Regions from separate parts of the Homo sapiens genome. Here regions 2 and 3 are each linked to region 1. Evidence: fine-mapped expression QTL. A gene starts in region 1. Each other region holds a variant in brackets. All regions are shown on one strand. Distances are between the middles of the regions.

Region 1 (8,182 bases):
TCTCAAAATGCTAGGATTACAGGCATGAGCCAGCGTGCCTGGCCAATAACACAATTTTTTTTAGAAAAAAAATTTAAATCCAGCAACAAAATAAAAGAGGAAATATTTACTGTTATGTCCTAGGGATCAAATTCATTAAGTTCACTTGCTTATCAAGCTGAATAAATAAATCATAGCCTGTCTTACCTTGGAGGTGACATCAATTCCAGTGATGAAGCTGCCAGCCTTGTTTTCATATCTTCTGCTCGTGTCCTAACACAAAGGGGAAGGGTGAGAAATTCAGACAGCAATTGAGGAAAAACCTATAATAAAAGTCGGCCTGACATCTGCAGGTTCTTTTTTCCTTTTTTTTTTTTTTTTGTTGGTGACAGTGTCTTGCTCTGTTGCCCAGGCCGGAGTGCAGTAGAATGATCACAGCTCACCGCAGCCTCGACTCCCCAGGCTCACGCCATCCTCCCCCTCAGCTGGGCCCTCAGGCATATGCCACCATGCCCAGCTAATTTTTTTTTTATTTTGTAGAGACAGGGTCTCCCTATGTTGCCCAGGCTGGTCACCAACTCCTGGGCTAAAGCAGTCCTCCTGCCTCAGTCTCCCAAAGTGTTAGGATCACATGTGTGAGTCATCACAACCAGTCTGGTTCTTTCTGTTTTTCTGTTTGTTTTTTGAGATGGAGTCTCACTCTTATCGCCTAGGCGGGAGTGCAGTGGCACAAACTCGGCTCACTGCAACCTCTACCTCCTGGGTTCAAGCGATTCTCCTGTCTCAGCCTCCTGAGTAGCTGGGATTACAGGCATGTGCCACCACCGCCAGCTAATTTTTTTATTTTTAGTAGAGACGAGGTTTCACCATGTTGGCATACTGGTCTCAAACTCCTGACCTCGGTGATCCGTCTGTCTCAGCCTCCCAAAGTGCTGGGATACAGGCATGAGCCACCACACCTGGCAAGTCTGGTTCTTTTTGAATAGCCACTCTTTTCAAAACCCTTCCCCACCCCTGACAACCTTTTATTAAGAAGCCCCATCCTAGTGATTCCATGGTATCAATCAACCACTCCAATAAGAAGATCAGAGCCTGTCCAAAAACTGAAGTGATTCCATCAACTCCAAGTATCCATGTAAAGAAAATCTAAAGGCTTTTGTGGAAAATGTCAAAAGATAAGGCACAGTCACTTAGCTCCCCAACCCAGTCTGAACGAATTCCTCATGCCCAGCCACCAGGTGGAGCACAACCCTCCACCTCAACGCAGAAGGTCCAGCCTCACCTAGAACTCCTGAGGCAAATACAGCACAGTGCAATGCAAAGGGGATGGGATTTGGAAACCAAGCGAGGACTGAAGCCTCAGCTCTGACAGTCACTAATTACAGGACACTGTATAGTTTTCTTGACCTCTCTGGGTCTCAGTTTCCTCTGTGGTATCTACCTGCCTTCCTGACCTCTTTTACTGCCCTTCCATTAGTACTACAGAAGTTTCCAACAATCCTGGACCCATCCCAGAGCCTCTGTGCTTGTTACTGGCCCTGCTGGGGGAACTCCTTTTCAATCTTCACAAGATTGGCTTTTTGTCATTTAGAGTTTATATGGAACATAAACTCCAGGAGGGAGGTTGAGCTTGATCAAGCACCTAGGGCTGTGCCTTGGTACATAGCGGGGGATGCAATAAATACATGTTGGCCGGACGCAATGGCTCAGGCCTGTAATCCCAGCACTTTGGGAGGCAGAGGCGGGCGGATCACCTGAGGTCAGGTGTTCGAGACCAGCCTGGCCAACATGGAGAAACCCCGTCTCTACTAAAAATACAAAATTAGCCGGGCACGGTGGCACATCCCTGTAATCTCAACTACTTGGGAGGCTGAGGCAGAAGAGTAGCTTGAACCCAGGAGGCGGAGGTTGCGGTGAGCCAAGATCAGGCCATTGTACTTGGCTACTCAGGAGGCTGAGGCAGGAGAATGGCTTGAACCCGGGAGGCGGAAGTTGCGGTGAGCCGAGATCGCGCCATTGCGTTCCAGCCTGGGCAACAAGAGCGAACTCCGTCTCAAAACAAAACAAAACAAAAACCATGTTGAACTGAATGACTAAAGGGATGATAACACCTGCTTCACAACTGCAGTAATATTTATTTATTTTGGTTTTGTTTTTGAGATGGGGAGAGGGGAAAGGGGGGACCTCAAAGGGGTCTTGCTATATTGCTGAGGCTGGTCTGGAACTTAGACTCCTGAATAGCTGGCACTAAAGGCGTGCACGGCCAGTATATTTAAGTGACACAATATAGTGAATGGTAAATGCTACTATATTAGCTGTTGTTAATCATAATTATAACGTTTGCCATCTCTAGCGATCATACTTTAACCTTTCTCCATAACTTCAGTCTAAATATGTTGACATGTGGTCAAAAGTAATTCATGTTAGGTGAGAAATTAAGAGGAGTCATCCAGGCCTGAAACCAGCTCTGAGAACTGGATATACAGCCACCAAGTCACAAGCAAAACACCTCTCACCATCCCCAGCGCGGTAAAGGAGGGACCAAGGATGTCTATTGGTCGTCTGCTAGTTTGCTTTCATTAAGAGTCAGATGCTGGGGCCACGGTGTAGGTGTCACTGGAGCTGCGGGGGGGGCAAGATGACCCCGAAGTCACGACAGAAACAGTGAGTTTCTGCTGCTGACAAGTGCAGCCCTCTCAAGACAAAGAGCGAGTGCCATGTTTCCCAGATACAAATTCCTCCGGGGCAAGACCCACAAGGAGACCTGGTTGCTGGCGCCACCCAACAGCTCCTTCTGGGCTGCCCCTGGTTCTGTTCCCGCCCAGGGCTCCCCCTTTATCTCATCCTTCCAGCCCCTCCTCACTCACCTCCTTGCACAGCGCGGCTCAGAGGGGGCAGCGGAGGGGGGTCCTCAACTCCCTCCCAGCTCTCCGCCACCACCCCCCAGCCCCCTCAACACCCATTTCCGGCGCCCCGGCGTCCTTTCTCCCGCTCCGCGTCCCTCCTCCAGCCCGGCGTTCCCGTTCCCAGGACGCTGGCTCCCTCCTCTCCCGCTCCCTTGACTTCCCCGGCTGGGGCTCCGGCCACCGCCCCTTCCGGCCCCCTCCGGCGCTAGACACTAGCCCCGCGACCTCTTCCTTACCCCCCGACCCCCGCCCGTACCGGGATCAGTTCCTTGAGCGAGCGCCGCACAGGCACGATTTCCAGCTCGCCCTCCTCCACCTCCATGGGCTCCGGCTCGCCACGGTCAACACCGGACTCCGCCTCAGGGGACGGGAGCCCCAGGGCCGGCCCCGCCGGGGCCTCCGCCTTCACCGACACCCGCAGGCCCCGTACGGCCGCCATCGCTGCCTGCCGGCCGCACCACTGAGAGCCCGCCCCTCACGGCCGCCGGCTAGAGCGCCGCTGCCACTGGCCACAGAGGAGCCGCCGCAGCTACCTAGAGCGTCGCCGGCTTCGGCCCAGAAGGCCGCCCTTAGCGCCGCCGCCCCCTGGTGGCGGGAGAAAACCGGGCCGGCTGCGCGGGCGGGACCTGGGGAGGAGAAGGCGGGACTGAGCGGGGACGGGGGCGGGGCCTGCGGGAACTACGGAGCTTGGAGGAGACCGGGGTAGTCAAGGGTTACAATGTAGCTACGCCTTGAGGCTAAAGCTGTACTAAAAGCCAACTTTCCTGAGTGATCACTATGGGCCAGACACTTCCAAGCGCTCGAACCCTTAGAACAACTCTATGAAGTAGATCCTATTTTGACCCCCATTTCATATATGAGGAAACTGAGGCATAGAAATTGACCCAAGGTGACGCCATTTAAGGGATAAAAGCTGGATCTAAGTCTTCCAGAGTTTACAATGAGCCTTGATATATCACCTCTGGACAATCTGTAGGTTTATAAAGTTACTTGCCTTGCCAGTCTTTGTCTCTTAAAAGTCTCCCCAAAATTGGCCCATGTTACATACACAAAAATTGAGACTCCAAGAGGGAGAGACCTGCCCAAAGGCCAGAACTTGGACGCCGATTTCCTGACTCCTGAGGGTGCCATCCACTGTAGACCTGTGAGCATAGTTTCCGGCGGATATTTCTAACGAGAGCCTGGTGGGGGAGAGGGGTTGTCTACGCGTCCCGAGGGTGTCACTGATCAGCTGCTGTTCTGAGTCCTGATTTTCTTTTTCTTTCTTTCTTTCTTTCTTTATTCCTTTCTTCCTTCCTTTCTTTCTTCTTTTCTTTCTTTCTCTTTTCCTTCCTTCCTCCCTCTCCTCTTTCTTTCTTTCTTTCTTTTTTTTTTTTTTTTTTGTAGAGACAGGGTTTCACCATGTTGACTAAGCTGGTCTCGAATTCCTAACCTCAAGCGATCCACCCGCCTCGGCCTCCCAAAGTCTTGGGATTACAGGCATGAGCCACCGCGCCCGGCCTGAGTCCTGATTTTGCATCTTCCTCCCTGGGTAACCTTGGACAGGTTTTTGGGTCTGTTTTCCCATCTGAGGAGGGCATAGGTGAGACCCTACAGTCTCTGAGGCCCTGAGGCCCTACCAGCTCTGACCATGGAGGAGCAAATAATGATAAACCAAGGAAGAGCATGGTCAGCATCAGACACACCTGGGTTTCGAGCTGGCTGGCCGGGCCCCATCCACCATGTGTGACCTTAGGCAAGCTGCTTAGCACTTTGGAGTCTCAGTTCCTTCATCAGTAAAATGGACCATTACCTACCTACAAAGGAGGTTGTGAGGGTTAAATGTGATAATTTATATGTAGATACAGGGTCCAACAGAAGGGGTGCAGTACATCACAGTTTTTCTTAAATTTGGGCTAAACCACAGGATAAACACAAGACAGAGCTCTTTAGAGGACTAGTTTTATTTGATGAATGGGACACAAAGTACTTTTAAAAATTGGGTTGAGGCCGGGCACGGTGGCTCATGCCTGTAATCCCAACACTTTGGGAGGCCAAGGCGGGCAGATCATGAGGTCAGGAGATCGAGATCATCCTGGCTAACATGGTGAAACCGTGTCTCTACTAAAAAAAAAAAATTAGCCGGGCATGGTGGCATGCACTACTTGGGAGGCTGAGGCAGGAGAATCACTTGAACCCGGGAGGTGGAGGTTGCAGTGAGCCGAGATCATACCACTGCACTCCAGCCTGGGCGACAGAGCGAGACTCCGTCTCCAAAAAAAAAAAAAAAAAATGGGTTGAATGCATACATAGAATATGTACGGGTGTGTGTGTGTGTGTGTGTTTAATTTCAAACAAAATGTGTAGTTGGGGTGGCCAGCTATAGGTAAGAGTCACAGCCCCCACCATTACTAGGCCTGTGGGGTTAGGGGATGGGAGAGGAGGAAGTAATCCCTCCTCAGCTATGGACACCAGGAGGCCAGTAGAGAAGGCTGGGCAGGCCCCTCACCCTGCTGGGGAGGATGCCTTGTTGCTTGAGGACGCAATTCGGTGAGGATTCAGTGTTGCAGTTCAGTGCCATCCAGAAGAGCCCCAGCACCCTGGCACACCAGCCGGCAGGTACATGAGGAGTCCAGGACAAGCCGGGACATCAGGCAAACACCAAGGCTCCTAGGCGCGTGTCAGGAAAGCCCTCTGTGCCTTGCTCTTTGTGGTCACCTTAGTCACCATCTCCCATCCCCTTTCCTGTTCGCGATGCAGCCTGCTGAGTTGGAGACACAGAGAATTTAGGAAGGTGGTAAGGGCTGATTTTCAAAAAGTTGAAAAACATGACTCTCAAACAGATGTAAAATGAACACATGTCAAAGCTGTTACCCAGTCATTAGAAAATGAGGAAACCAGTAGAAATATGAAGAATAGTTTGAAGGGGAACTTGAATGAATATGTGGTTGGTCAGTCAAAGGAATGCTGAGATGAATTTGACAAGGCAAGTTAATGTCCTGTAAGGCAAGAAACGATAACCTCCAGGACTCCCTTTACCACCAGACAGAAAACATTTGCATTACTACTGGACAAGAATTATTTACTTGTTATAAATTTTCTTTTTTTTCTTTTTTTGAGATGGAGTCTCGCTCTGTCACCCAGGCTGGGGTGCAGTGGTGTGATCTCGGCTCACTGCAAGCTCTGCCTCCCGGGTTCACGCCATTCTCCTGCCTCAGCCTCCCGAGTAGCTGGGACTACAGGTGCCCACCACCACGCCCGGCTACTTTTTTGTATTTTTAGTAGAGACGGGGTTTCACCGTGTTAGCCAGGATGGTCTCGATCTCCTGACCTCGTGATCTGCCCGCCTCGGCCTCCCAAAGTGCTGGGATTACAGGCGTGAGCCACCACGCCCGGCCAAATTTTCTTTTTTCTTTTTTTTTTTTCTTTTTTTGAGATGGAGTCTCGCTCTGTCACCCAGGCTGGAGTGCAGTGGCACGATCTCGGCTCACTGCAACCTCCGCCTCCTGGGTTCACGCCATTCTCCTGCCTCAGCCTCCTGAGTAACTGGGACTACAGGCGCCTGCCACCATGCCCAGCTAATTTTTTGTATTTTTTTTAGTAGAGACGGGGTTTCACCGTGTTAGCCAGGTTGGTCTCGATCTCCTGACCTTGTGATCCACCTGCTTCAGCCTCCCAAAGTGCTGGGATTACAGGCGTGAGCCACTGCACCCAGCCACCTGTTATGAATTTTCTATAAACCTCTACTCTCAGTTGTAAAATACCCTAATCAATAGTGCATAAGAAGTCAGACAAAGCTATACATCTGTAGAGAATCAGATGGTTCCCCAGGCAGATAACACCTGGCACAGTACCAACAGGGCATTTTCCTTTTTCTGTTTCCAAAGTCTGGATATATATTTTTTTTAGATGGGAGTCTCACTCTGTTGCCAAGGCTGGAGTGCAGTGGCACGAGCTTGGCTCACTGCAACCTCCCCCTCCCAGGTTTTAAGCAGTTCTCTGCCTCAGCCTCCCGAGTAGCTGGGATTACAGGCACGTGCCACTATGCCTGGCGACTTTCTGTATTTTTAGTAGAGACGGGGTTTCACCATCTTGGCCAGGTTGGTCTTGAACTCCTGACCTTGTGATTCACCTGCCTCAGCATCCCAAAGTGCTGGGATTACAGGCGTGAGCCACTGCGCCCGGCAAAAATTTTTAATTAATAGAGAAAATCAGGGGAATGGGACATTGGGACAGACTGGAGAGAGAGTTTTAAGAAGGGAGTGATCAAGTGTCATGTTCTGCCATAAGTTCACGATGGAACTTGTTTTGGGTCTAGAGGTTTGCTGGCCATTGGTGACTTTGAGGAGAGCAGAGTCCATGAAGGGGAAGGCACATTAGTGGGGAGATTTGAGCCAGTGTACACAACTCTCAGGAGAAGTAGGCTAGAGGGCAGGGAGGATATTAACAGGCTCTTCTAAAGGGTTCCTTTTCTGTGATTTCTTTCATTGAAATTGGTCACTCCCTCTCCTTTATTTATTTATTTATTTATTTATCGAGACAGAGTCTCACTCTGTCACCTAGACTGGAGTGCAATGGCACAATCTCAGCTCACTGCAAGCTCCGCCTTCCGGACTCAAGCGATTCTCCTGCCTCAGCCTCCCAAGTAGCTGGGATTACAGGCATGTGCCACCACGGCCGGCTAATTTTTGTATTTTTAGTAGAGACAGGGTTTCACCGTGTTGCCCAGGCTGGTCTTGAACTCCTGGGCTCAAGAAGTCTTCCCACCTTGGCCTCCCAAAGTGCTGGGATTATAGCCGTGAACCACCACACCCAGCCCTCTCCCTCTGCTTATTCCTTCCTCTCTTACCCAGCAAGGAGGGGAATAAAAATAATGGAATCCTACTTCCCCTGGAGTGGCACAGGGAAAAGCCGTGGAAAGGTAATGTGAGCTCCTCAGGAGAAATCAGATGCTCCCTGAGGGCTGGTAACCTGGTGCACTTGCCTGAGCTGATGCCCTGCTGATTGAAGCAGGGATGTTCTTTAGTGCAGTCTGAAGCTGGGTGCCCGCGACCTGCACGCCTCACACTCCTCGGTTCATGAGTGTCCTTGCAACATGCGCACGCCCATCAGTCATTCAGGAAAAGCTTCCGTGGTTGAAGAAGAGGTCATGAGGCAGCTGACCCTGGTGGGGGCACTGTATCTATGTGCCCCATCCACTGCCTAGCTAAATTCTTGTTTTTGTTTGTTTGTTTTGAGGTGGAGTCTCTCTCTGTTGCCCAGGCTGGATCTCAGCTCACTGCAACCTCCACCTCCTGGGTTCAAGCAATTCTCCTGCC
Region 2 (8,182 bases), 24 kb before region 1:
ACACTCCCAGTGGAGGTCAAACAAAGCAACACTCCACCTTCCTGTTTCATCTCATGCTGTAAACAAGCGTCTGTTTCAGTCCACCGAGTGGCACATTTTTCACACTTCTGTGCCTGCTGCTAGTGATTTCACTGCTTAAAATGGCCCTGAGTGTCGTGCCGAAGTGCTGCCTAGTGTTCCTAGATGCAAGGGGGCTGTGATGTGCCTTGTGGAAAAATACCATATCAGGTAAGGCATTCAGGCATGAGTTATAGGGCTACTGGCTGTGAACTCAATGTTAACGAATCAACAATGTGTCTTAAATAAGGTGTCTTAAAGAGAAACATATGGGCCCAGCGCGGTGGCTCACGCCTGTAATCCCAGCACTTTGGGAGGCCGAGGTGGGCAGATCACGAGGTCAGGAAATCGAGACCATCCTGGCTAACATGCTAATACCCTGTCTCTACTAAAAAATACAACAAAAATTAGCCGGGCATGGTGGTGTGCGCTTGTAGTCCCAGCTACTCGGGAGGCTGAGGTAGGAGAATGGCGTGAACCCGGGAGGCGGAGGTTGCAGTGAGCCGAGATCGCGCCACTGCACTCCAGCCTGGGCAACAGAGCAAGACTCTGTCTCAAAAAAAAAAAAAAGAGAGAAACATATGTAAAACAAGGTTACATATTGATCAACTGACAAAAATGATGTGGCCAGAGGCTATGTACGATTCAGTATTTGCTACTTCAGTGTTCACAGTGACTTTATAGAACATAAGCACCATGAATAATGAAAATGGAAAAATACAATAAACGAAAGAAGTAGAATATAAAGTACATGTTCCCAAGAGTTATACTATTTATTATGAAAACAAATGGGAAAAATGTAAGATGAACTCAGTCATCATACAGGGTACTAGAAATAGGGGCAATTTGCTTTTTAATTTCCTTAATATGGATATAAAAAGTATATGATGAAAATATTTTAAAGTAACTCAAATTGGAAAAGTGTAACTGTGTAACAGTAAAGTATGTGTATTATTATTATTATTTTGAGACAAAGTCTTGCTCTGTCGCCCAGGTTGGAATACAGTGGCACAATCTTGGCTCACTGCAGCCTTGACCTTCCAGGCTCAGGCAATCTCAGCCTCCCAAGTAGCTGGGACCACAGGTATGTGCCATCATGCCTGGTCTGGCTAATTTTTTAATTTTTTGTAACGACAAGGTCTCACTATGTTGCCCAGGCTGGTCTCAAACTCCTGGTTTCAAGTGATCCTCCTGCCTTGGCCTCCCAAAGTGCTGGGATTATAGGTGTGAGCCACTGTTCCCATCCTATGTGTATTATTAACATGTAGATCTCAAATATACAATTTTGTATATACACATTAAATAAAACATCTAGACTTCATCCCTTTCTGTCCCCATTACAATGATAAATGTGTGTATATGTTATTTTGTATGCTGACTTGACTAGTTCTATTAGGCATGTAGAAGATTCCATAGATTAGGCTCAAAACAAGAACAATTCTTTATAAAACATAAATAAAATGGTTCTTTTACAATAAGCACCAAAAAAAGGAGAAAGAAACCCAAGTCATGATATCCCACTCTTCTGAGGCATTCACATGCACAAACCAACAAGCACAAAGCACTCAACACAGCAGCCTATTTTTAATACAGAAAAAGAACAATACAATCAGTTCATCTGATAAAATAATTTCAAAAATTGTTTTTGGCTAGGCGCGGTAGCTCACACCTGTAATCCCAGCACTCTGGGAGGCCAAAGTGGGTGGAACACAAGGTCAGGAGTTCGAGACCAGCCTGGCCAACATGGTGAAACCCCATCTCTACTAAAAATACAAAAGTTAGCTGGGCATGGTGGCGCATGCCTGTAGTCCCAGCTACTCGGGAGGCTAAGGCAGGAGAATTGCTTGAATCCAGGAGGCAGAGTTGCAGTGAGCCGAGATCAAGCAATTGCACTCCAGCCTGAGAGACAGAGCGAGACTCCGTCTTAAAAAAAAAAAAAAAATTGTTTTCATGCAGCTGTTGATATTAATAGTAGAAAAATTAGGATCCTAAGGAAAGTTTTGTTTTAATTTTTCCTATGTCATATTTTGCCTTTTTTGATAGAACAGCTTTTATAAAATCATTTGACCTCTTTGGGCAACTTAAAATTAATTGTGACTTGACTTACTTTCCTATATGTTGGCAGAGGGTGAGGGCAAGGAAGAGAGGATGATAAAGTTTGGAACCTTAAAAGATTGCATTAAGAATAAAAATATGATTTCAGGAGCCAAACATGTGTCTACCCAAGAGCTGAGCAGGCAACTACCAGAATGTCGATGTTTATACGACGTCAAGCCAACGTCATCCCCAATCAGGGCTCTCTTCTTGATCACGTCCCGCTGAATACGACGGGAATGATATCTTCGCTTCCTGCAAGAATGCCAAAATAAGCACACAATCAAAAACTGATAGGAAGGACCTTGAAATCCACTATTTCTTTCTCTTTTCTTTTTTTTTTGTGATGGAGTCTCAATCTCTCTCCCAGGCTGAAGTGCAATGGCACCATCTCAGCTCACTGCAACCTTTGCCTCTTGGGTTCAAGCAATTCTCCTGCCTCAGCCTCCCGAGTAGGTGGGATTACAGGCGCCCACCACCATGCATGGCTAATTTTTGTATTTTTAGTAGAGACGGGGTTTCACCATGTTGGCCAGGCTGGTCTCGAACTCCTGACCTCAGGTGATCTGCTGGCCTCGGCCTCCCAAAGTGCTGGGATTACAGGCGTGAGCCACCATGTCTGGGCTCGCTAATTCATTTCAACTACACGTTGACACAATGTTAGGTACTAACACAGATATTTTAAATGTAACTACAATTCAGCATTCCCCATCATTTACCACATCTAAGAATCTTGAATTCTTCCCTCTTGTTTTCCTTCCAGTTTACACAGGGTTTAGACATTTCACCACGGAATACCAACTGAAGGATTAAGAAAAACTCAAATACTATTGCATTTGAAGGTTTTGGACTCACCATGAATTGCTAAGAATTCCTTTCATGCCTCCATAATTTGGATTCCCATATTTCATGTAATACTGACTTCTTCTGGCTGCTCCAAGTTCCTTTTTGTCATCTAAAAATTAATGACAATAGTTACCTAGGATTTCCTGTGAGTGTAAAGACAATGTTGAATTTTTTTTTTAATGTTTTCCATAGCTGGAATCAGATCAGCGCAATTTGCCAACAAAAAGTAAAAATCCACTACCAACATTCACACTCTGAGTGCCCACTACAGCAATGCAGTGTAGAGGGGATAAAGCAAAATACAGAGACGAATGAGGTTAAAACTGCTGTTTGGAGCCAGATGACTTAATGGAGAAAACAAAAATAAACAATACAAGATACAAGGTTCCAAAAGGCATAAAAGAGCTTTAGGTCATTACAGGTACCCAGGAATCAAAAAGACTTTCTCAAAATAGTGGCATTTTTGCCACCCCATGAAAGATGATATTCACTTCTGAAGGATCACATGCCAACAACACAGCATCAGGATTAAGGAAACAGACTACATATAATTCCATATATTTGGTAAATCATTTTTCCAGTTTATTGTGCTCCTCAAAATGGCTTAAAGAAAACAGCATAATACTATACATGTAGAATGTACTCAGCCACTCAAATGAGTAAATGTGGTAAAGATCACATTTGTCAAGTTGAAATGTCAGTTAACAGGAAAGAAAGGTGGTCAGTCATCATAAATTTTTGTCAAAAGTAGTAATACAAAGACCTTCCACAGTTCTTGGACACTCTGACTGTAAAGAACAAACACCACTGTAAATATATCCAGGGCTGTAGGTAAACGTGACAACACAAACCAGTATGTATAGCCCCCAACCCCCGAACCCCTCAAACCATGCCCACCAGCTCCTTGGAGAAATGGCTGATTCCAGATGTGGAGCAGGTAAGATGCAAAATGAGTCTGGAAAAGCAAGATGTTTT[G/A]TTGTGCCATAAAGAAAGAAAGTGCTTAAAGAATCATGGAGTATGTCAAAACAGCTTGAAGGGGCTCTACTGGCCAAATCCAAGACAATTTGTAAATTAAAATACTGATATTAGGCTGGGCGCGATGGCTCACGCCTGTAATCCCAGTACTTTGGGAGGCTGAGGCGGGCGGATCACAAGGTCAAGAGATCGAGACCATCCTGGCCAACATGGTGAACCCCATCTCTACTAAAAATACAAAAATTAGCTGGGCATGGTGGCATGCACCTGTAGTCCCAGCTACTAGGGAAGCTGAGACAGGAGAATTGCTTGAACCCAGGAGGCAGAGGTTGCAGGGAGGCAGAGGTTGCAGGGAGGCAGCGGTTGCAGTGAGCCAAGATCGCGCCACTGCACTCCAGCCTGGTGACAGAGCAACACTCCGTCTCAAAACAAACAAAAAAATAAATAAAATTAAATACTGATATCCATGGATGATAACCCACTGAATAAAGAATCCATGATTCTAAACTGATGTAAATAAACAAACAGGTAAAAACAGAAGGCTCTTCCTTAGAGCACCTGTCTACTGGTAAAGAAATGACATAGTCAGAAAGGCATGAAGCTCTGATGAGCAAGAGGCTATTTACGTGATCTCAAAGTATCTGCCCACCAATTTTTTATTTTAATCATTTTTTTATTTTTTAAAATAGGGATGAGGTCTTGCTATGTTGCCTAGCCTGGTCTCGAACTCCTGGGCTCAAGTGATCCTTCTGCCTCAGCATCCCAAAGTGTTGCAATTACAGGCACGAGCCACTGTAACCAGCCAGCCCACCAATTTTTAAATTACAAATGGAAGAATAGCAACTTTACAGTGGAAAAACCTAGTGATGATTACCTTAACCAAGTGAATAAAGTGAACGTCCCTAGGACTGGGACGAGTAAGTATCCAGGGCCTCCTGACATGATGCTCTGGAAATGACATGACATCGCTTCTGTGGCACGCCTGTCTCAAATGCACAACCCAAATTCAATCAGGAGGAATCATCAGACAAACCCAAACTGAGGGACATTGTATAAAATAGTAAACCTATATTCTTGGAAAACATGGGAGGATAGAAGTAGTTTCAGCTTAAGGGGGACTAAGGAAACATTACATACTTACACACTCAGTCCTGGATGGATCCTAGACCTGGGGCTGGGCGGGGAATATATAAAGGACATTATTGGAACAACTGACAAAATTTGAAAATCGACTACGGATTAGGTAACAGTACTGTATTAATGTTAAATTTCTTGATTTTGTTAAGTGTGCTATGTATAAAACAATGTTCTTATTCTTTGGAATACATTTAGGGGTGATGGGTTTTTATCTTCAACTAACTCTCAAATGATTAAAAAAACCAATATGTGTATATGTGTATAATACATATACATACATACATACATACACACACACATACACACACACATACACATACACACACATATACATACACACACATACATATATACACATACACATACATACATATACATACATACACATGCATACATACACACATACACGCGATACATACATACATATACATATATACACATACATACACATACATATATACACATACACACACATTTTTAAATGCCCACCAAAAGTCACCATGTGTAAACAATCTTATGAGAAGGGAATTAGAACCGAATGGTACACTGGCAATGTTCAGGAGGACGTTGCTGTAATAAATAAAGTTTCATTTGAAAGTTTTCATAATTCAGATGGTAACTGGCTGAAAATATATGAGGCAAACCAGTTTCAACAGAAAATAACTTTAGCCAGAAGTCACAGAAATATACAAATAGTTAATATTCACTTTTAAAGTCAGAAATTCCAACTCAGGTGGCAAGCAATTATTTCATAAGCGCAGAATATTATAGTTTGAAGGGAACTTTGAGATTACTTGATCTAACTTCTATTCAAAAAAGAAGGATGTCACTCCATAATAAATCATTTTGATTGAAAATATAAAACAATACCAAATATTACATTTACCTTTTGTAGCAAATCTCATGAATAACCTATTTCCTTTAGCAAGTTTGTTAGCTGGACGAAGATCGTTTCTTAACAAAGACTCCTCTTCTACCTGAGACAACGTATCCAACTTAAGAAAGAAGAGTATTTTTAATATAAAAATTAAAGTCCTTTTGATATTTCTTCAGTAGTAAAGCTACCATTAAGAAAAGCATTCTACCTTTAATACTTACAAGCATTATAGCACTAGTTCCGCTGTAGAATTTCTAACTCAGAGATTTCCCCTGCCCACCTTGTCTAAAAGAACAGTCTCCATCATTCTCTATCCCCTACTCTTTTCACAACACTCATTGCCACCTGACACAGTATGAGATATCTGTGCATCAGTGTATCCTCTGCACTCCCCACTAGAATGCAGGCTCCGAGAGGGCCAGGACTTTGTTTTGCTTGAAGCTATATCCCTAGCACTTAGAATATGGTATATAATAGGTACTCAGTAAATATTTTTTAAATGAATGCATGTTAATATTTTTAACAACAGTACATAATCCATTAGGAAGTATGCCATTACTTGCTGTTTCTTCATTTTACTAATTAGATAACACTTCAAAGTATTTCTCAATAAAACTATTTTCTTTTTTTGTAGAAGCATAAGCACTATTCTAAGATTTCAAGGTGAATCGCTATATCCACACTAACTTAAAGGACAAGAGCCTGGTGCACCCTCAGAAGGTCTAATGGTGAAAGCTAGAGAAAAAACGTAACTAAGTCTTTAAGGCTTAAGTTAAAAAGACAGTGAGCAATTTTTTACAATAACTTTACATCTATCTTTCCCCTATTACTAACCTCTACATCACTTGAGTTCTCATCTTCAACCTCTCCTTCTTCAGCTTCATCATCATCTGAACTGTCTTCCTGCTTGTCTAAAATGGAATGTGAAGGACAAGATGAAACAAGATAAAATATTTCATATAATGAGATACAAGATGAACTATCTCATATAATTTTAAAAGTCCAGTATTTTCTCCTATTTCCTGATGATCTCAAGCATCATAGATTAGTTCAGAAACACTTGGTGATGAGATGCTATATAGAGCTCTGCTCAGAAACAGGACTGTGTAAAGAAGAGGACTTTCAGACCCCAGTTCCCTCCTTTGTGTTGTTACCTTTTTTCCTTTTCTCAGCTGACTTGTCCTCACTGGCATCCCTGCTTCTGATCTTATCCTGTGCAGGCAGGGAGCTCATATTGATAAGTGCTCGTGTGGCTGTCATTTCATCCAGCCAAACTACATTACCTAAAATAAAATGTAAAATAAGACATTACACAGCATGGAAATGGTAAGCTTCTTGAGAGCAGATTCTGCATCGCATTCATCACTACAGCCTCATCTAGCAACAGATTATCATCAGTAAATATACAAACCAACTAATGAAGAGAAATATAGACCAGGCATGGTGACTCACACCTATAACCCCAGTACTTTGGGAGGCCAAGGCAGGAGACTCGCTTGGAGTGAGATCATCCTGGGCAACATAGTGACACCCTGTCTCTACAAAAAAATACAAAAGTCATGGTGGCATGAGCCGGTAGTCCCAGCTACTTGGGAGGCCGAGGTGGGAGAATGGATTGAGCCTAGGATATTGAGGCTGCAGTATGCCAAGGTCACACCACTGCACTCCAGCCTGGGTAACAGGGTGAGACTTTGTCTCAAAAGAAATGAAAAGTTAAAAATAAATAAAAAAGAAAGAAAGAAAGAGAAAGAGAGACAGAAAGAGAAGGAAGGAAGGAAGGAAGGAAGGAAGGAGAGAGAGAGATGAAAGAAAGAAAAAGAGAGAGAGAGAAAGCACTTTGGGAGGCCGAGCCAGGCGGATCACGAGGTCAGGAGATCGAGACCATCCTGGCTAACACGGTGAAACCCCGTCTCTACTAAAAATACAAAAAATTAGCCGGGCGTGGTGGCGGGCGCCTGTGGTCCCAGCTACTCGGGAGGCTGAGGCAGAATGGCGTGAACCCGGGAGGCAGAGCTTGCAGTGAGCCGAGATGATGCCACACTGCACTCCAGCCTGGGCGACAGAGCGAGACTCTGTCAAGAAAAAACAAAAGGAATGGAACAGAATGGAACGGAACGGAAAGGAAAAGGGAAGGGGGAAGGGTAGGGGGAAAGGGGAAGGGGGAAGGGAAAAGATGGAAGGGAAGGGGAGGGAAAA
Region 3 (8,182 bases), 110 kb before region 1:
GAAGAAGAAGAAAAAAGACAACAGTAGTGGAGAAGGAAAGAAGTCAGAGACAGTAAAGCAAATGAAACGAAAAAGAGGCAGGGGAGGGGGGACAGAGGAGTTAAGGGCAAGTTCTGAGTTTCTAGCTCAGGTGGCTGAGTGGTGCCGGTGGCTGAGTGGTGCCGGTGGCTGAGTGGTGCCATTGACTGAGGGAGGTAACATGGGAGGAAGACCCAAGGGTGGAAGAAGATGCGTTCAATCGGGGACATGACAAGAGGTGCATATAGGATAACAAAGCAGAGATGCTGACATGTCAGCTGGACACACATCTTAGAGCTCAGGCGTGAGACCTCAGTGTCATCAGAATATTAACAGCGTTGCCTAATCTGAGGCCTAGGGACCGTCTCAGAGGGCCCGGAATGCCAAAATTTATGTATGCACATGTGATCTTCTAAGGAGAGGGGTCTGTAGTCTTCATTAGATTCTTTTGGGGATCTATGTCCTCAGGTCAAAAACCACTGAGACAGCTGGACACCGACGACCAGGCTCACTAGCGTTTTTGAAAGAGAAGCGTTTGCTTGCTATGTACACTAGGGGGCGATGTAGGGCAAGCCATGCGTGCTGTATCTCTACTACCCCCAGTAGCTGGCTGGGAGGTTGGTTCTTGGCTGTAATTAATTCCCTGCTGGAAACAGCTGTGCCTGCTTGTTAGCCTGGATTCCAGAGCATTTGAAAGTCTTCAATTGGTCCTGCAAATGTCTATGAAAGGGCTGACCAGGACTTGGGGAACTGCGTTCTTCCCCATATACGGCAACTCCAGCCAGCTGGCCAACAGAATCACAATACATACACAACACTAGTCGCCAAGGACGCTTGTTTGTTTTGTTTTGTTACCCTCCCCCCCTCCCCGTTTTTGGAGTCTTGCTCTGTCACCCAGGCTGGAGTGCAGTGGAGCGATCTCGGCTCACTGCACCCTCCGCCTCCCGAGTTTGAGCGATTCTCCTGCCTCAGCCTGCCCAGTAGCTGTGATTACAGGCGCCCACCACCATGCCCAGCTAATTTTTGTATTTTTAGTAGAGACGGGGTTTTACCATGTTGACCAGGCTTGTCTCAAACTCCTGACCTCATGATCCGCCTACCTCTGCCTCCCAAAGTGCTGGGATTACAGGCATGAGCCACCGCGCCCGGCCTGGGGGGCATTCTAAGACCACTACATGTCTAAACCCACACTCATGTGCTTGGCAACACTGTCATTCTGGAATTCAGTGTGGTCCAATAGAACGTCTGCAGCGATGGAGACAGGCGGTATCTGCGCTGCCCAACACCACCAGCCACAGGCGGCCACTGAGTCTTTGAAGTGTGGCTAATGTGACTGAGGAACAAAATGTTTCATTGTGATTAATTTTAACTCATGTACATGTAAACAGCTAAGCGTGGCTGGTGTGTTGGACAGTGCAGTGCCGCATGCTGGGGCTGTGGCCCTCTTTCCTCCCTCCGCCTCCATTCTGTCAGCACGTGCTACGTATGAGCTGTCACTTTAAACTGTTACTCCCGTCATGGCCCAGCCCACACCGCCTCTCACCTGAGTGGTTACAAAGGGAGCAAGTGCCGCTTCTCTTCTCAGCTAAGCAGCAAGAAGGATCCTGCTAAGCTGCATGAGTGTGTCACTCCTCTGACTTCCCAGCTCACAGCAAAAGCCCTTCTGAGGGCTTAAGAAGCCCCATGGCCTCTTCCCCCTTCCTCCCCTTCCCTCATTACACCCCGCCCCACTCCACTGCAGCCACTAGCTCCTCACCCTGCCCCCCACCCACCAGGCAGGCTTCCAACCCAGGGTACCTGCAGCTGCTCTTCCCTTAGACACCCAACCACATAGCTCGTTCCCCTACCTCCTCCAGTGTGTGCCAAAGTGTCACCCTCCGTGACCACCCCATTGAAAACTTCAGCATCAGCTGCCACCCAACACTCCTTCCCACCTTCCCTGTGTCTTCAACGTTCATCTCATCAACATGGAATTTACCTACTTACCATCTTCTCCCCCTAAGAGCACCAGGAGGGCAGGGATTTTTGTCTGTGTTGTTCACAGAAGTATCCCCAGCACCTAGAGTGCTTGGCACAAAGTAGATGGTCCAGAAATATTTGATTGATTAGTTAATTTGGCCAAGAGGTGGGCCGGGAAAGAGGTTACCTCTAACTGAGGTAGAGGTCAGCCTGGCTGTGAAGAACGCTGGGTTCTGAATATAGCATTGTCCGGGATGTCAAGAGACCCAGGTTCAAGTCCACCAAATGGCCTATGCAGGGCCCTCGGCGACTGAGTCTGCTTCCTAATCTAGAAAGTGGGAAGACAGATCTCTGTCTTGCCTCCCTTCTGGGGTAGCTGAGGACATATTGAGATAATAAGTGCAGAAGCCATTTGTGGGCCACGGGGAGAGGGGAAGGGGATGTGCAGGGTGTCCTAATGAAGGAATTGCCCAGGCAAGCGTTCGGGAGAAGGTTAATCGAGGAAACTGACGGCTATGTCCAACTCACTGAGAGACGGTGGTGGCCAACTGTAATTCTGCGACACAAAACAGCTTATTCTTGCAGGCCTTCTCATAGGGCAGCTGTAACCAGACAGAGAGTCCCGATCAGCCCAGGCTCCGCCTTCCCCAGCAGCCCTGCCTCCGGCTCTTCTCCTTATAGGAAGTTTTGGGCTGTGCCTCCTGCTCACCCTGAGAAGTGCAGTTACAGGGAGGTGAGGGGTGCAGGCTGGGATTGTCCCCGAAGAGCAGGGACTGTGACATTCCTGGGTGACATTCCTGGATCTGTCCTATAACATGGGCACACTGTGACCCAGTCCTTTGACCAAGGTAAAAACTGGGGTGACCTTCACGGAATGTTAGGGGTGCCCATGACATTTACATCATGCGAATTCAGCAGCAACACACAGCTCACGACTTTGAGCATTCAGGGAGCAGACACCTACGCGAAGAGAAGCTTCCTTAGTCCTTTCGGATATAGGCAGAACAGCCCGGGCAGGAGTGGGGGATGCCTAGCCAAATATCGTCAAGGTCCAGGCCTTGGAGGTTCCTTCCTCATGGCTAGTCATCTGTTTTTTCGGTTGTTTGTTTGTTTGTTTTCAGATGGAGTCTCGCTCTGTCATCCAGGCTGGAGTGCAATGGCGCGATCTCGGCTCACTGCCATCTCTGCCTCCCGGATTCAAGCGATTCTCCTGCCTCAGCCTCCCAAGTAGCTGGGATTACAGGCATGTGCCACCACGCCTGGCTAACTTTGTATTTTTATTAGAGAAAGGGTTTCGCCATGTTGACCAGGTTGGTCTCAAACTCCTGACCTCAGGTCATCCACCCACCTTGGCCTTCCAAAGTGTTGGGATTACAGGTGTGAGCCACCGCGCCCGGCCTGGCTAGTCGTCTCTGTAAGCTAACTATTTCCCTTGCCTACACATAATCGACTAATTCTGAAAGCCACATTTCAAAAGGCCCCATGGAGGTTGAAAAGCTCCAGTTCGTGTTTTTAAAAATTCCAGTGTTCTAAAGTAGCTGGGTCTGTTTTTGTATTATGAAGGAAGGCAGCCAGCTCCTCGGCTGGAGAGCCTCTGCACTTCGCACTTCTCTCCCGGTGGCCACCTCGGCAGCTGTCTGCAGGTCTGTTCCCA[C/T]GGCCTAGAGGGGGAATGACAGCCCAGGGCTTGAAAGGGAACTTTCTACTTCCTGCGGAAGGGGGATGCCATTTGCAGAAGTCAAAGCGTGGCGCTCTCTCTAAGTGGGTCAACAGTTTCATGCAGGGTTTTTTGTTGTATTTTTTTTTTTTTTTTTTTTTTTTTGAGACGGAGTCTCGCTCTGTCGCCCAGGCTGGAGTGCAGTGGCGCAATCTCCGCTCACTGCAAGCTCCGCCTCCCGGGTTCACGCCATTCTCCTGCCTCAGACTCCCGAGTAGCTGGGACTACAGCTGCCCGCCACCACGCCCAGCTAATTTTTTTTTTTTTTTTGTATTTTTAGTAGAGACGGGGTTTCACTGTGTTAGCCAGGATGGTCTCGATCTCCTGACCTCATGATCCGCCAGCCTCGGCCTCCCAAAGTGCTGGGATTACAGGCGTGAGCCCCCGCGCCCGGCCTTTTGTTGTATTTTTAATATAGCCACATAGCCTGATCTCTTCCACCCAGCCCCAGTGAAAGAGAATGGGGTTAAGCCATCTAAACTCCCAGCCAGAACGCACTCTCTGGTAACACCGATGTGCCTAATACCACGTGGTTTTTTCCTCACCCATTTTATACGGGGAATAACTTTTTAAAAATCTCTTTGCCATAGCATAATAGTCATCACTGGTTAAGGAAAGACACATAAAGAGATGTTAAGCAGGATACAATCGCAAGGCATCTCACCATAAAATGAGACGTGCTTATTAATGACACAGGCAAACAGCACTAGGAATGGACAAGTCCACATTAGGTGCCTCCTGAGATGGTGTACTGAGAAGGACACACTTTACTTCTGTGATATTCCTGACAAAAATGCATAACCTGGCCAGGCATGGTGGCTCACGTCTGTAATCCCAGCACTTTGGGAGGCCGAGGAGGGTAGATCACCTGAGGTCAGGTGTTCAAGACCAGCCTGGCCAACATAGTGAAACCCCGTCTCTACTAAAAGTACAAAAATTAGCCGAGCATGGTGATACATGCCTGTAATCCCAGCTACTCGGGAGGCTGAGGCAGGAGAATTGCTTGAACTTGGGAGGCAGAGGTTGCAGTGAGCCGAGATCACGCCATTGCACTCCAGCCTGGGCAACAAGGGCGAAACTCTGTCTCAAAAACAAAACAAAAATGTATAACCTGAATCTAATTATGAAGAAATATCAGACAAATTGAGGAACATTCTACAAAAGGACTGGCCTGTACCCTTCAAAAATGTTAATGTCATTAAAAGACAAGGGAAGACTGAGTGAGAAACCCTTCCAGATTAAAGGAGACTAAAGATAAATAACTGTAGAACGCTATGAATGATCCTGGACCAGAACCTTTTTTTTCTTTTGCTATAAAGGACATTAATAGGACAACTGGCAAAATTTGAATAAAGTTTGTAAATTAGATAATAGTATTTTATCAATGTGAATTTCCTGATTTTGATTATTGTACTATGTTAAGACAATGCCTTTGTTTTTAGGAAATATATATTGAAGGTTTGTGGTTTTTTTTTTTTTTTTGAGACGGAGTCTTTCTCTGTCACTCAGGCTGGAGTGCAGTGGCACGATCTCGGTTCACTGCAACCACTGTCTCCCGGGGTCAAGCAATTCTCCTGCCTCAGCCTCCTGAGTAGCTGGAACTACAGGCATGCACCACCACACTGGGCTAATCTTTGTATTTTTTAAAATTTATTTTATTTTTTATTTTTTTGAGATGGAGTCTCGCTCTGTTGCCTAGGCTGGAGTGCAATGGCACGGCCTTGGCTCACTGGAACCTCTGCCTCCTGGGCAAAGGATTCAAATGATTCTCCTGCCTCAGCCTCCCTAGTAGCTGGGACTACAGGCCCATGCCACCACACCCGGCCAATTTTTGTATTTTTAGTAGAGACAGGGTTTCACCATCTTGGCCAGGCTGGTATCGAACTCCTGACCTCAGGTGATCCACCTGCCTCAACCTCCCAAAGTGTTGGGATTACAGGCATCAGCCAGGGCGCCCGGCTGACAAAAGTTTCTTATGACACTACCCGCCTGTCTAAGCTGCACTGATGGGCACCAGGAGGAGAGGCTAGGATACAGGTTTGGTGGGGCCATTCAGCCTGAAGGCCCTGGCAGGGCATGAACAGGCAGGTGTGCCAAAGGGCATCCTCTCTGCAGTGCAAGACACGACAGCTCCAGTCTAGCTCCCACAAGGAACCCCCATCACAGCGTCATCAGAGCCGCTTGCCAAGTGAGGTCCCCAGGATGCAATGTATGCATGTGCCTCATGAAAGATGTAGCAAGTGCTTTTGTGAACATAAAGACATAAAGGAACAAGCCCCAGGGGCAGATGGAGACCTGCGTTACCCATGAGTCCTCACTCACGGGGACACATTAACACCATCTCAGGGACTCAGTTTCACCATGAGTACGGTGAGGGGCCCAAATGCCGTCTGAAGACATTGCCTCCCAACTCCACCATTCTTGGAAGTTAGGGGAGCAGGTGGTTTCTGTGGGATAGGCTCTTAAGAGGGCTGGGTACTGGCTGTGGGTAGAGTCACCTGGAAGATGGCAAAGGGCTCAGTGTAGCGGTCCAGGATGGGCTGGGGATGGTCCGTCTGTCCCTCAGGGGTCTGGAGCTGGTAGCTGACTTTGACACTGGCATTGGAGAAGCAGTCCTCCTCACAGAGCTGTGGGGTCACCACGGAAGGCAGGGTTAGAGTTGGATGTGGGGGAGAAGATGACAACAATAATGCTTTTTTTCTTTTTCTTTTTTTCTTTTTTTTTTTTTTTGAGATGGAGTCTTGCTCTGTTGCCCAGGCTGGAGTGCAGTGGCGTGATCTCGGCTCACTGCAACCTCCGCCTCCCGGGTTCAAGCGATTCTCCTACCTCAGCCGCCCGAGTAGCTGGGATGACAGGTGTGTGCTACCACGCCTGGCTAATTTTTGTATTTTTAGTAGAGACAGGGTTTCGCCATGTTGGTCAGGCTGGTCTCGAACTCCTGACCTCAAGTGATCCACCCGCCTCAGCCTCCCAAAATGCTGGGATTATAGGCGTAAGCCACCGCGCCCGGCCTCTTTTCTTTTTTTTTTTTTTTAAGATAAGGTCTCACTCACTCTGTCACCCAGTCTGGAGGGCAGCAGCACCATGATGGCTCACTGCAGCCTCAACCACCTGGGCTCAAGCAATTCACCCACCTTGGCCTCCCAAAGTGCTGGGATTTCCAAATATGAGCCACCGCACCTTGCAAGAATACTTTCTACTTTGATGTCATCATAAGAAGAAATAAACAATAAAAGTGGTGAGTCAGAAGTCCTAAGCATCTTCCAAATAAGCCAGGCTGAAGGGACACGTCCTTCAAGCAAGCTGCCAAGTGCTTTGGGAAAAATCTCCTTCATTCTACTACGGTTTTGTGTCTATAGCTGCTATGGTTCTTATCCCAGTCACAAAGGGGTAAAGAACTGGCTCAGACAGAAGGGAAGAGTCACAGCCACACCTGGGTTTATCAAGTTCTTTCTCTTTTTTTTTTTTTTTTTTGAGATGGAGTCTCGCTCTGTCGCCCAGGCTGGAGTGCAGTGGCTCGATCTTGGCTCTCTGCAACCTCTGCCTCTTAGGTTCAAGGTTCTCCTGCCTCAGTCTCCCAAGTAGCTGGGACTACAGGTGCATGCCACCACGCCTGGCTAATTTTTGTATTTTTTTTTAGTAGAGACAGGGTTTTACCACATTGGTCAGGCCGGTCTCGAACTCCTGACTTCAGGTGATCCTCCCACCTCGGCCTCCCAAAGTGCTGGGATTAGAGGCGTGAGCCACTGCGCCCAACCAACCAAGATCTTTCTCAAAGCAACATGGAGGACATATTAGAGAGGTAAGAGAGAAGATAAGGAGATTGCTTAGCATACCATTTGCCACTCTCTTTGTTTAAATAAGCCTTTCTGCCCCTATAAGAGCCTCAAGCCCATGGGAGAAAGTGAGCATGATTCTCTGGTAGAGAATGTGATTAAGCCTTTATTTAAGGAAGGCTGTAGACTTTAATCCAATTAACAATCACTTTGGGGGTAAATGTGTATTCAGAAGAAGAATTCATGCATTTGTTTATTGGAATAAACGATCCATATAGATCCAAAGTTCGAGATCCTGTCAGGGTTTGAGTCCCGACATACTTTTTTTACCCCATGTCTCTGGGCACCTTTGCCAGGAGTAAACCTTTCTAGATGGTCGTTTCTATCTTTTTATTCTTCCTTTTAGTTGTTCACTTTTTTGATGCCAACTGACATTCAGGCCCTCGGTCCTAGTTATTATCAGGTGAGGTCTGATAACGCATGCCAAGAACACTGGCATTCCTGAGTTATTACCAAGAAAAACGTCAGCAATGACAGCATCTCCATCTTCCGTGCCATTACGTGGTTCTTGATTTATTATTATTATTATTTTGAGATGGAGTCTTGCTCTTGTTGGCCAGGCTGGAGTACAGTGGCATGATTTCGGCTCACTGCAACCTCCCTCCCCTGGATTCCAGCGATTCTCCTGCCTCAGCCTCCCGAGTAGCTGGGATTA

Evidence for each region. PIP is the estimated chance that this variant, and not a neighbour inherited with it, causes the effect.
Region 2: its variant is fine-mapped to the expression of NCBP3 in whole blood (TOPMed, PIP above 0.99). The same link has a PIP of 0.9 or more in blood mononuclear cells, monocytes after LPS, monocytes after Pam3CSK4 and tibial nerve.
Region 3: its variant is fine-mapped to the expression of NCBP3 in whole blood (TOPMed, PIP above 0.99).

What each region holds. Positions count from the first base shown.
Region 1 is chr17:3,842,900-3,851,081 of GRCh38, forward strand. NCBP3 (nuclear cap binding subunit 3) reads right to left here and starts at 3,347. Exons shown (of 13, transcript NM_001114118.3): 1 at 3,142-3,347; 2 at 187-252. The coding sequence starts at 3,324. RefSeq lists silencers at 3,046-3,335, 3,516-3,635.
Region 2 is chr17:3,818,947-3,827,128 of GRCh38, forward strand. NCBP3 (nuclear cap binding subunit 3) reads right to left here. Exons shown (of 13, transcript NM_001114118.3): 5 at 7,141-7,269; 6 at 6,821-6,897; 7 at 5,996-6,104; 8 at 3,007-3,106; 9 at 2,303-2,406. Among named protein-coding and RNA genes, the nearest start is that of ITGAE, 22 kb to the left of the region's middle. The variant G/A (reference allele first, on the strand shown) is at 3,973.
Region 3 is chr17:3,737,300-3,745,481 of GRCh38, forward strand. ITGAE (integrin subunit alpha E) reads right to left here. Exons shown (of 31, transcript NM_002208.5): 19 at 6,190-6,318; 20 at 2,506-2,579. Among named protein-coding and RNA genes, the nearest start is that of HASPIN, 17 kb to the left of the region's middle. RefSeq lists an enhancer at 496-790. The variant C/T (reference allele first, on the strand shown) is at 3,632.